Homo sapiens: one gene and its partner. The protein of the gene in region 1 interacts with the protein of each later gene in a pairwise test. Each region holds a gene or a part of one and is shown on either strand. Other genes may lie near its edges.

What was found. The genes of interacting proteins can lie anywhere in the genome.
Region 2: the proteins of OSBPL8 (region 1) and BTG3 interact in a two-hybrid assay, tested with the Homo sapiens proteins (one large-scale study listed by BioGRID and IntAct).

What each region holds. Positions count from the first base shown.
Region 1 is NC_000012.12:76,387,646-76,392,831, forward strand, and holds part of OSBPL8 (oxysterol-binding protein-related protein 8), read right to left. Parts: intron 5,108-5,186; coding exon 4,936-5,107; intron 3,013-4,935; coding exon 2,775-3,012; intron 2,185-2,774; coding exon 2,000-2,184; intron 1-1,999. UniProt on the Homo sapiens protein: Lipid transporter involved in lipid countertransport between the endoplasmic reticulum and the plasma membrane: specifically exchanges phosphatidylserine with phosphatidylinositol 4-phosphate (PI4P), delivering phosphatidylserine to the plasma membrane in exchange for PI4P, which is degraded by the SAC1/SACM1L phosphatase in the endoplasmic reticulum.
Region 2 is NC_000021.9:17,595,213-17,600,398, reverse strand, and holds part of BTG3 (protein BTG3), read left to right. Parts: intron 1-1,574; coding exon 1,575-1,782; intron 1,783-5,186. UniProt on the Homo sapiens protein: Overexpression impairs serum-induced cell cycle progression from the G0/G1 to S phase.

The sequences.
Region 1 (5,186 bases):
TTACGTTTCACAAGCATGTCTGACAGTCCAATGTGGTGATTTTTTAAGATGAGATGTGAGACAGAAGAGCACAGACCTAGGCTTATTGACAATGGTGCTAAGTTGAAAGCTTGTGCTTTTCTGGAGTAACAACCCTCTGATTGCTCTCTTTCCATCTTGGTTTAAATTCCCTTACTATGCAATTTTATTTTAAAATTAAATATATATAGTTCAAAAGTCAAAGCAATATAAAGAGGTACACATGTCTTGTTACTGCCCCGTCTCTCCACACTGTTCCTACTTACCCTCTATAGGTAACTTTTTAAAAAAGCTTCCTTTTAAGTTTTCTTTAGGCATAAACAAGCATATATAAATAAACAGTCTTGCTTTTCTTAAAAAAGGGTTGCAAACTATACATACTCTTCTGTACACCTTGCTTTTTTCACACACAATTCTGGAGGTCCCTACAGATCAGTTTATGGAATTCTTCCTTATATGGGTGGATGTATCACACACTGTTTAACCAGTACACTGTGCTGGACACTGGAGTTATATCTAATGTTTTATTATTACAAACCCTGCTGCAACAATCTTGTATATATGCCATTCTGTATATGTGGCATTATATCTGTAGGAGTTATTCCGAGAAGTGAGATTAGTGGATCAAATGATGAATGCATCTATACTTTTGGTAAATACTGCCAGATTACCTTCAGGGTGCTGTGCTAGTCTGCACTGCCCACGGTAGTGTATGATAGTCCCTGATTGCCAACAGAATCTTGGCAACAGTGTGTAATGCCAGAAAAGTACAATCTTTCTATTTGAGACAGGGGGCATCTCTCAAGAAAATCTTGTGATTCACAGGAATTTGCCTTACATTCTGAGAGAAATGAATTTCTAGACCGACAAAAGTGCAGAAGATATTAGAACGAGGATATAAAAGCTTTTTGACTTTTTGTCAATGTGGTGGATAAACAACAATAACTTACTATAATTCAAATGTACATTTTCCTTATTTTGCATGAGGTTTTTACATGTTTAAGGACTGTTCCTATTTCTTCATTTTCCAACTGCCCAGTAATTTCTTCCACTCCTTTTTCTGTAAGTTTCCTTTTCTATAGAATCATTTTCATTCAATTTTTAAGAGCTTTTTTTAGGGAGGTTAACATTTTGTCTACGATGAAATTTGCAAAAATTTCCCAGTTTACCAATTATTTTTTGACTCAGCTTATTTTTTTCAATGTTCGCTCATGCCATTTATAGACAAAAACCGAAAATAAGTCTTGATAAAGATTCTAAAAATTAGGTCGCAGGGCCAGATATCAGTGGCACAGAAAGCACAGTGCCTTGAAACACCATTATTGCTGGAATAGGGGCATCAGGTAAGAATTGGAAGCATGGACACAAAGTTGCTGTTCCTTGCAAAGTTTACTGGTTTTCCAAGAAATTGCTGGGACAGAGGTGGATAGCACCTCCTCTGCCTCCTTTAGGTGTGCCTTCTTCAAAATTACACCCAGGATCAGCTGGCGGCTTCAGAAAAGCAAAGAAAATAAGGATTTGTTCCAAAAGCTAGCAACTGGCAGGGCATTCTAGTTCTGGTAAGCCGTACATACCTCACAAGCATGCAGACAGACAAGTATGAGCAAACACAGATGCCCCAGGATGGGACTGAACAAGTGTTTTTGTAGAGGAGAACAAATGATGCCAATCACCTCTCTCTCTCTGTTAGGTTAGTGAACTGAGGTTAAGGAGCCTATAACGGCAGTGTTGTTGAGTAAAGGGTAGAATTCTTGTTTTCCTCGAGCTTATGATATCTCAATTTAACTTCATAAATGGCAACATTATAGCAAAGTATCAAACATGCTTCTTACTAAGGGTCAACCACAGAAGTGGTAGAGAACAGAGAGTGATGTCTCATTAGAGCCTGATTTTGGAAACAAACGATAATTGAAAATAGCATTCTTGAGAATTTCTAAAATCATGAAGTATTGTCTATTTTAAGAAATAAGAATCTACTTACTCAGATAGGAAATCTGCATGATAGTAGTAATCTGAAAGTTTATCCAGGAAAGAACGGGGTTCCAAAATAAATGTAGGCAGAACCACCTTGGATAGGTCCATGCCAGGACGGACTTGTTTCAATAGTGTCCAGATAAGGCTTTTGTTTTCTTCAGATACAGTTTCTGTTTGAGAAGCCTCACCTGCCTTTATCAATTAATGAAAATTACCAAAACATTATATTTATTTCAGACAGATATGTAAACAAGCCAGCTAATGTTGAAAATATGAACTCTTCTCAGGACTACTCCAAGCATTCTTTAAATGTGGAAACAAAAAATAATAATAAAATCTATAGCTATAAAACTTAGGTAAAAAAGGGTAGCTGAAAAAGACATCAAAGTGAACAATATATACAAGAGATCCACTACAAAAATATTATAGCCTATTATTTTATACTACATTTACTTCTATGATGCACTGGCAATAACAAAGTTATAAACTCACGTTTCCTTGCAACTTTGCACCTGGCAATGACATCAAGCAATATCCTACTTCAAAATCAAGCTTGAAGAAAATGTAAACTTTAAATTTAATAGAATATATTGGTATTTATGTGAGTATATGTGTTTAGTTGTTTGTAAATCCCAATATATTTCATATGTATGCAATTTTTAAAATATCACATTCTATCACAGAAAAATAGGCAATAGATCAAGCAAATAATATCTTCAATTTCATTTAAGAATTCCCAAGAATATGAAAATCCAGAACCTCTAAAAATAGCAGACTTTTACCTCTCCAAGTTCTTCATGGCTCTGTTCAGTGTAGGTAGTCTCCTTTAAAGGCTCAACAGGCTCAGGTTCGATATATGAGTCATCTTGTCTTTCTGATGTATCTGTGTCACTTTCTTCACTTTTCCCCATCACCTCATTATCAGACTCATCATGTTCTTGATCATTTTCTTTATCAGATTTATCAGAATACATATCTTGGTCCTTAAAATGTTGTCGTTCAATTTCACTATCATTTAACCTTAAGGGAAAGAATTTTTAGGAGGAAGAATCAAGGATGTTAAGAATGCTCAATTCATAAATAATAATTATATACAACATTTATTGAGAATTTACTATGTGCCAGACAGTGTTCTAAGTGTTTTACATAGTGTTAATTCACTTAATCTTCAAAATAACCCTATGAGATAGGTAGTATTATTATTCTCATTTTACAGATTAGTAAACAGAGGCATAGAAAAATTAAAAACCTAGAGAAATGCAAAAAGATGACACTCTGAGCTCTTTGCCTCTCTACCACTTGGGGCTAAAATCCTCCAAAACCAAGAGTTTAGACTTCTTGTTAGATATTTTTCTTAGTTTTTCAAACAGCATCACTTGCATCAATCTCACTGTCACTTATGGTATGAAGAAAAAATGCAGGTCCAGATAATCAGATTCTCAACTGAACTCAAATAAATTATGACTTTCCACCTGTATAAGAAGGTTTCCAAAGTCACCTCACATGAGTCCAAGAAAAATATATGAAAATGGTAAATGATAAACAATTATATTAAATTCTATTCGTCTGAAAGGTTTAATCCTGAGCCAAAATCCAGAGAGAATTAAAAATGAAAATTTCAGCTGAAAGAAATTAACCTATGGACTAAAATCAAGTAAGTTTTGCTTAATCTACCCTATTCTCACTTAAAGTGATTAGGGCAAAAAATCTGTACAAAAGGGGGAAAGTCTTGGAAAGAGGTTCCAACAAATACCCATTCCTCTATCAGTAGCCCACCCCATTCCATCCTATCTCATTCGGGCACCAGGTACTTGGGATTAAGATAAAGCTCCAGATCGTAGGTCTGCAAAGAAATAACATAAAAGGTCAGGTAATGGAGATTTTAAAGAGAGTGGGGGAAAAAAGAAAAGAAAAAAAACCTGGGCAACATAGTGAGACTATGTCTCAATAAATAAATAAATAGATAAGCCAGCCAGCCAGCCCAGTGTGGTAATACAGGCCTGTAGTTCTCACTACTGGGCAGGTTGAGACTGGAAGATGGCTTGAGCCCAGGAGTTCCAGGTTACAGTGAGCTATGATTGTGCCACTGCACTGCAGCCTGGGCAACAGAGTGAGTCCCTGGCTCTAAAAAATTTTTTAAAGTAATACAGACAGAAAAAAAAAAGAAACAAGCAAAATGATAGGGAAGAAATGTCTAAATCAGGCAATATGAAGAAGAGGAGAATAGCAGTCTAACTTTGAGAAGAGCAACCTCAATGCTGATGAAAGTGGTTACAGAGCAGAAGCCAAGGGGTGGGGACAGGGAGGAAATAGAAAAGTCTAATGTTTTTCCTGCAAAGCAACAAAAAGACCTGAATCTCAAGAAAGTCTTTGCACTACTGCCCAGTTTCCTTGGAGAAATGCTTTTTTAGTGTTAACTACAATAAATGCTTCAGGGAATAAAACCACAAATAGGATACAGTTCCATTCCAAACAGAAATATAAATGAATTTCACAAATACCAGGTAGAGTTAAGTCCAGTGCCATTACTAAAAACATGTTACTCTATAGAAAGACAGATTATGTCTCATAGTTATAAGGTTTCACACATGATGTAATATTTGAGACTGATCTTGAAGAATATATAGACAGGAGAAAAGCGTAAGGAGGAGTAGGCAGAAATCATTCTTAATAGAAGGGACATCATGCACAGACAAGGTGAATAATTAGCATGGCTATATTTGGGAAAGATAAAGTAAATCACGTTGGCTGGAATCAAGGAAATACATTTCTACACCTGATTATAGCAGCTAAACAAATTTTAAGCCGGTTCCTAGGCCATATAATGGGAAGATATGCAAATTTCAGTCCTAGATACACTACTAAAATTCTAGGCCTGCCAACTAATTTTGTGAACAGTATGGTCTCTGAAACATTACCAACTCAGCGGCAGTATCTACTTACTGGAAGTTATCACCACTGTGGAGATTGTTAGCACGTAGTAAGCCATAGAAAGTCACATGTGTGCTATCTGATGAAACGCTCAGGTCATGTTCCTTTCCTTCTCTGATCATTGTACGTTTAAGAAGACTAGAACATTTCAAAGCCAACTCCAAAGCATCCATCCAGCACCTTCCTAAAAGAACACAGATTCATAAGCACTATAATTTTTAAAACTATGAAACTAGCATGCATCTTAACTTACCCTGTTACCA
Region 2 (5,186 bases), on another chromosome or scaffold:
ATTATTTCTACTTAGAGTTACTTATTTTTATCTTTTTTCAAACTTAGAATCACTTTAATTACATTTCTAACTGTATGTGTTTTGTAAGAACCGCTTAACAATATCCTTTGTCCTGATGCTAGAAATTGTTTGATAGTGTTGACACTGTGCAATCTATTTAAATAGATTTGTGGATTTCTCCTATGTCCACTGAATAAAAACTCTTGGTTTTACTTGAGTTTATTACACTATTTTCCTACAGTTCAGAATTTTTTTTTAAGTAACCAGCAGCATATGTTACATATTTTGACAACTTAAAAAAAATCAAAAATCTTCAAAAATGTTTTGGAAGAATAACAAGATTTTTTCATCTTACCTTAAAAAAAATTAAGATGAGAGGTGAGTAGTTATCCTAGGAAACTCTGAAGTAAGCAATATAATTTAAGCAAAACCTCTATATTCTTCAACAACTATCTTTTTTCTTTAATCTCAATAACTGCCTCAGTTCTCATTTTTGTGAGTATAAATAACAGGCCCCCTTTTTTATTTAATTGGGGTTAAAGTCAATTTTATAGGAAATTTCTAGTTGATCTGTGACTTGAATTACTAGCATATATGTTACATTTATAAGTACAGCTGGGGCTGGGCGTGATGGCTCACGCCTATAAACCCAGCACTTTGGGAGGCCGAGGCGGGTGGATCACCTGAGGTCAGGAGTTCAAGACCAGCCTGGCCAGCATGGTGAAACCTCATCTCTACTAAAAATACAAAAATTAGCTGGGCGTGGTGGTGGGCACCTGTAATCCCAGCTACTTAGGAGGCTGAGGCAGGAGAATCACTTGAACACCTGGGAGGTGGAGATTGTAGTGGGCCGAGATTGCACCCATTGCACTCCAGCCTGGGCAACAGAGTGAGACTCCGTCTCAAAAAAAAAAAAAAAAAAATCAGCCAGTGGCGCATGCCTGTAATTCTAGCACTTTGGGTAGCTGAAGTGGGTGGATCTCTTGAGCCTAGGAGTTTGGGACCAGCCTCAGCAACATGGTGAAACCCTGTCTCTAAAAATGTATATAAATTAGCTGAGCATGGTGGTACACTCCTGTAGTCCCAGCCTCTTGGGAGGTTTGAAGTTGGAGGATCGATCACCTGAGCCCAGGAGGTAGAGTCTGCAGTGAGTTGTGATTGTGCCACTGCACTCCAGCCTGGGCAACAGAGTGAAACCCATCTCAAAAAAATAAAAATACATCAGAATGTTTTATTGTACAACCAATTTCATTGGTACATACAAAAATGTAATCAAAACAATGGACTTTTTTTGATGTTTTAAACAATTTTTTTTTTAGGAATTAGTAGAAAGAAAATAAGGGAAAGAAAATGGGGTTATGTTTATGAATACTTAAATAGACCAGAAGTAGAAAACTGTGGTTTGCTTGCTGGCATTGAGCTGTATTAGGATATTAAATGTGTAGGGTCAAGTTCTGTGATGATTCAATCTTTGCCTTGTATTGATGGCATGTCCAGATCTCTTTGTTTTTATGGACATTTTTTGCTTTGCTGATGTGACTTCAAGATTTGTAAGTTTTTAATTTTATTCTTAGGTATGGAGAGAAAAACAATGCATTCATTGTTGCCAGCTTTGAAAATAAAGATGAGAACAAGGATGAGATCTCCAGGAAAGTTACCAGGGCCCTTGATAAGGTTACCTCTGATTATCATTCAGGATCCTCTTCTTCAGATGAAGAAACAAGTAAGGAAATGGAAGTGAAACCCAGTTCGGTGACTGCAGCCGCAAGTCCTGTGTACCAGGTAACCATGAAAACAGCTCAGTTTTAAAGGGATGTGCAGGGATTGCCAGGACCTTTCAGGTAGTCCTACTTGGCATTGCCCAAGGTTTCTGACTTGAGATTCTGGATAATAGTTCTTGCCTTTCCCCATGCTAAGGGAAAGCTGTTTCTCTGGCACGTAAATAGGCATCCTGAGTCATTTTATCAAAGGTCAGCTTCACTATACAATAACTAGGATAAATATATTTCAGAAAAATTGGCAAAAAGTAGAAAATTCATGATGGTAAAACATTCCTGATATTTTAAAATCTCATTCAAAAGTTACCACTTATTTTTTGTAGTATGTAACACTTTGTTTTGTACCTTTGGGTTTAACTTTCTATTCTCTCCCGTTCCATGATTAAAGAGAAACCTCTCTAAATTTATTATATTATAATTAATATTTTACTCAAGCTGAAACATTGTCTCCCTTTTTGCTTTACTAGTTGAAAAGTCATATAGCTAGTGTGCCTGCACTTACAGATCCATTCACTGATTTACTATTTATATCTACATACCAAAGAACATTTAATCGACTTTAAAAAATTGTTGACCAAACAGCATTCTTCAACAGGAAAGATATTTTAAAGTCATAACAATTTAAAGAGATTTTTTGAGTTGAGCCTTATTCTGTAAATGTACTTATTACTAATTTTTAAAGGTTATCTATTTTTACTTACTTGCTTTGATTAAATGTGAAACATACCAGGTTTGTGGTAAGGTTGAGCTGAAAATGAAAATTTAGACCTAATGAGTAAGAAGCAGAATATTGGAGCTTTTAGTATGATAAACTAAACTTTTAAATTCAGCATACATTTACATAATGAACATTATTTCAGTGTAACTTAATTTTTGGTTTTCTCATTTTTTTCTCAGTTGAATTATTCTTCCTAGACTTTAGGGGAAGATTATTTCTGAAGATTATCATAATTTAGGATTCTATGTATATGTGTATGTATATGTATATGTATATAACATGTACCTGGCTTTATGAAACTTCAAACAGTACAAGACAGTATAATAGTGAGAAGTCCTCTTTCTCCCCAACCACCAGTCCCTATGCATTTCCACAGAGACATTCATTACCAGGTTTTTTTTTCTTTTTTTTAGTATCCTTCCAGAGACATTCCCTATATAAATAAGTAAACATAGTATTTGTACTTCAGGATCATTTTTAAAAACCTTGCCATAAATATTTGAGGCATTTTTTTTCTCTGTGTGATGGATTATATATTGCAAATTAGGTATATTGAATTTTCTGGAATTCATCCAAATGTGTGGCAATTTTACCTCAGAATTTTATTTGTTGTTAAGCAAGAATGTAAGTCTCAAATTAAATTGATTGCTGCTAATTTTTTACAAGCAAATTAACCTTTAATTTTTAGGATTTCTTTTAAAATTAAATTGCATTTATTTTCCCTCATGTTGAAAGACTATTAGGATAACAGAAAGGTATGGAAATTGAGGTGTCTCTTACGTGCTTTTTAAGGAAAACATTTCTCCTTGGCCTAATACTCATTAGCAAAACATTTTATAATAGAGAAACACTACTTGTGTGAAAGCTAGTGCAAATGGCCCACTTTGATTTTCTTCTTTCTAGTATCTTGAATCTGGCATTGCCACAAGCTTTAAAAAAGTTTTATCAAATAAGGACAACAAAATTTCTAGCTTGGAATTTTTGTTCTCTACTGTTTTCTAAAAGGTATCCCAAGAGAGGGGATAAAGAATTATTCATATCTTAAAAAACGAAGAAATGAAGATTGTGTCAGTTCTCCTGAAATAGATCTGTAGATCCAATTCAGTATCAATGAACATCTTAAAAGGTTTTTTTCTGGAAAGTGACAAATTGATTCAAAATTTTAAAAAAGGAGGATCAGTTGGAGGGCTCACACTAATTCAAAGCTATTATATATTCATCAAGACAGTGTGGTAATGGTTTAAAAACATACAAATATATTGATGGCACAGGATAGAGAGTCCAGAAGTAGACCCACATACATACAGTTAGTCTTTTTTCTCCCTTTTAACAAAAGTGCCAAAGCAATTCAATGGGGAAAGTCTTCAAGAACTTGTGCTGAAACAACTGGATGATCTGTGTAGGAAAAAAAACGAACCTAACTTAGCTGACACCATACACAAAAATATTGATTTGAGATGGATTGTGTACCTAGACATAAAAGATAAATCTCTGACGCTTTTAGAAGAAAACATAGGGAAATATAATCTTTATTTTGTGACAGGCAAATATTTCCTCTAGAGGGTCACAAAAAGTAACTAATAAGGGAAAAAAATTGACAAACTGGACTTCATCAAAATTAATCATCTTTTTGTTCATCAAAGAAACCATTAAGAAAATGGGCAAACCATAGACTAGGACAAAATATTCTCATTACATATATCTGTAAAGGACTTATTTCCAGAATATACTTTTTTTAAAATCGCTCACAAATCACTAGTAAAAGGTAAATGATTCAATGAAAAATAATGGGCATATCCTGCTGTAATCTCAAAAAAAGGGCAGGAGGAGCAAAAGATGTGAATAAACACTTTACAAAAGGAGTTATGTGAATGGCCTCATTTATGATCAGAGGAATGCAGATTAAATCCATATGAAACACTAGTTCTTCCAGAACTGCACAATTTAAAAGCCTGACAGCATGAAATGTTAGCAAGGATGTGAAGCAGCTAGATTCATAAACTTGCTAGTCATGTAAAATAGTACCACTACTTTGGAAAACTGGAACTTTTTAACGTTAAATGTGTAACTCTTCTATTACTCAGCAGTTCCACTCCTAAGTATTAAATATTTACCAAAAGAAACGAAAATATGCCTATAAAGCCTTCTATTAGAATTAACTGTGCTGTTATTCATTGCAGCATTGTTTTGTTCGTTGTGTATCATTGTTTTTTTAATAGTAAGAGACTGAAAACAGCCTCAATGTCCCATTACTAGGAGACCATTTAATTTATAGTCATTGCTATACTATCTAGCTGTAGAAAAATGAGAAGGATCTTTATGTATTGATATGTTTCTGAAATGTATTATTATGAAATGTAAAAAGCAGGATACAATCCAGTATACATATATATTTTTAAAGTGTGTATAGATGTGGATAGAATATCTCTAAAGGTATATTTAAAAAAATGTTTGGTGTCAGTTGCCCTTGAGAAGGGTTAAGATAAAGAAGATAAAGGGTGAGATAAAAAAAGAGGGACTTTCCACAGTTTACCCTTTTGTACTTTTTGAATTTTCTATCATGAATGCAATGCTATACACAATATAATTTTTTTAAAAAAATCCTATACTTAGAAATGCAGATTTGAGATCAGCAAAATCAGAAATTTAAGAAGATGTGGCATTCTAAGCAGAGAGGTCTAAAACTGCTG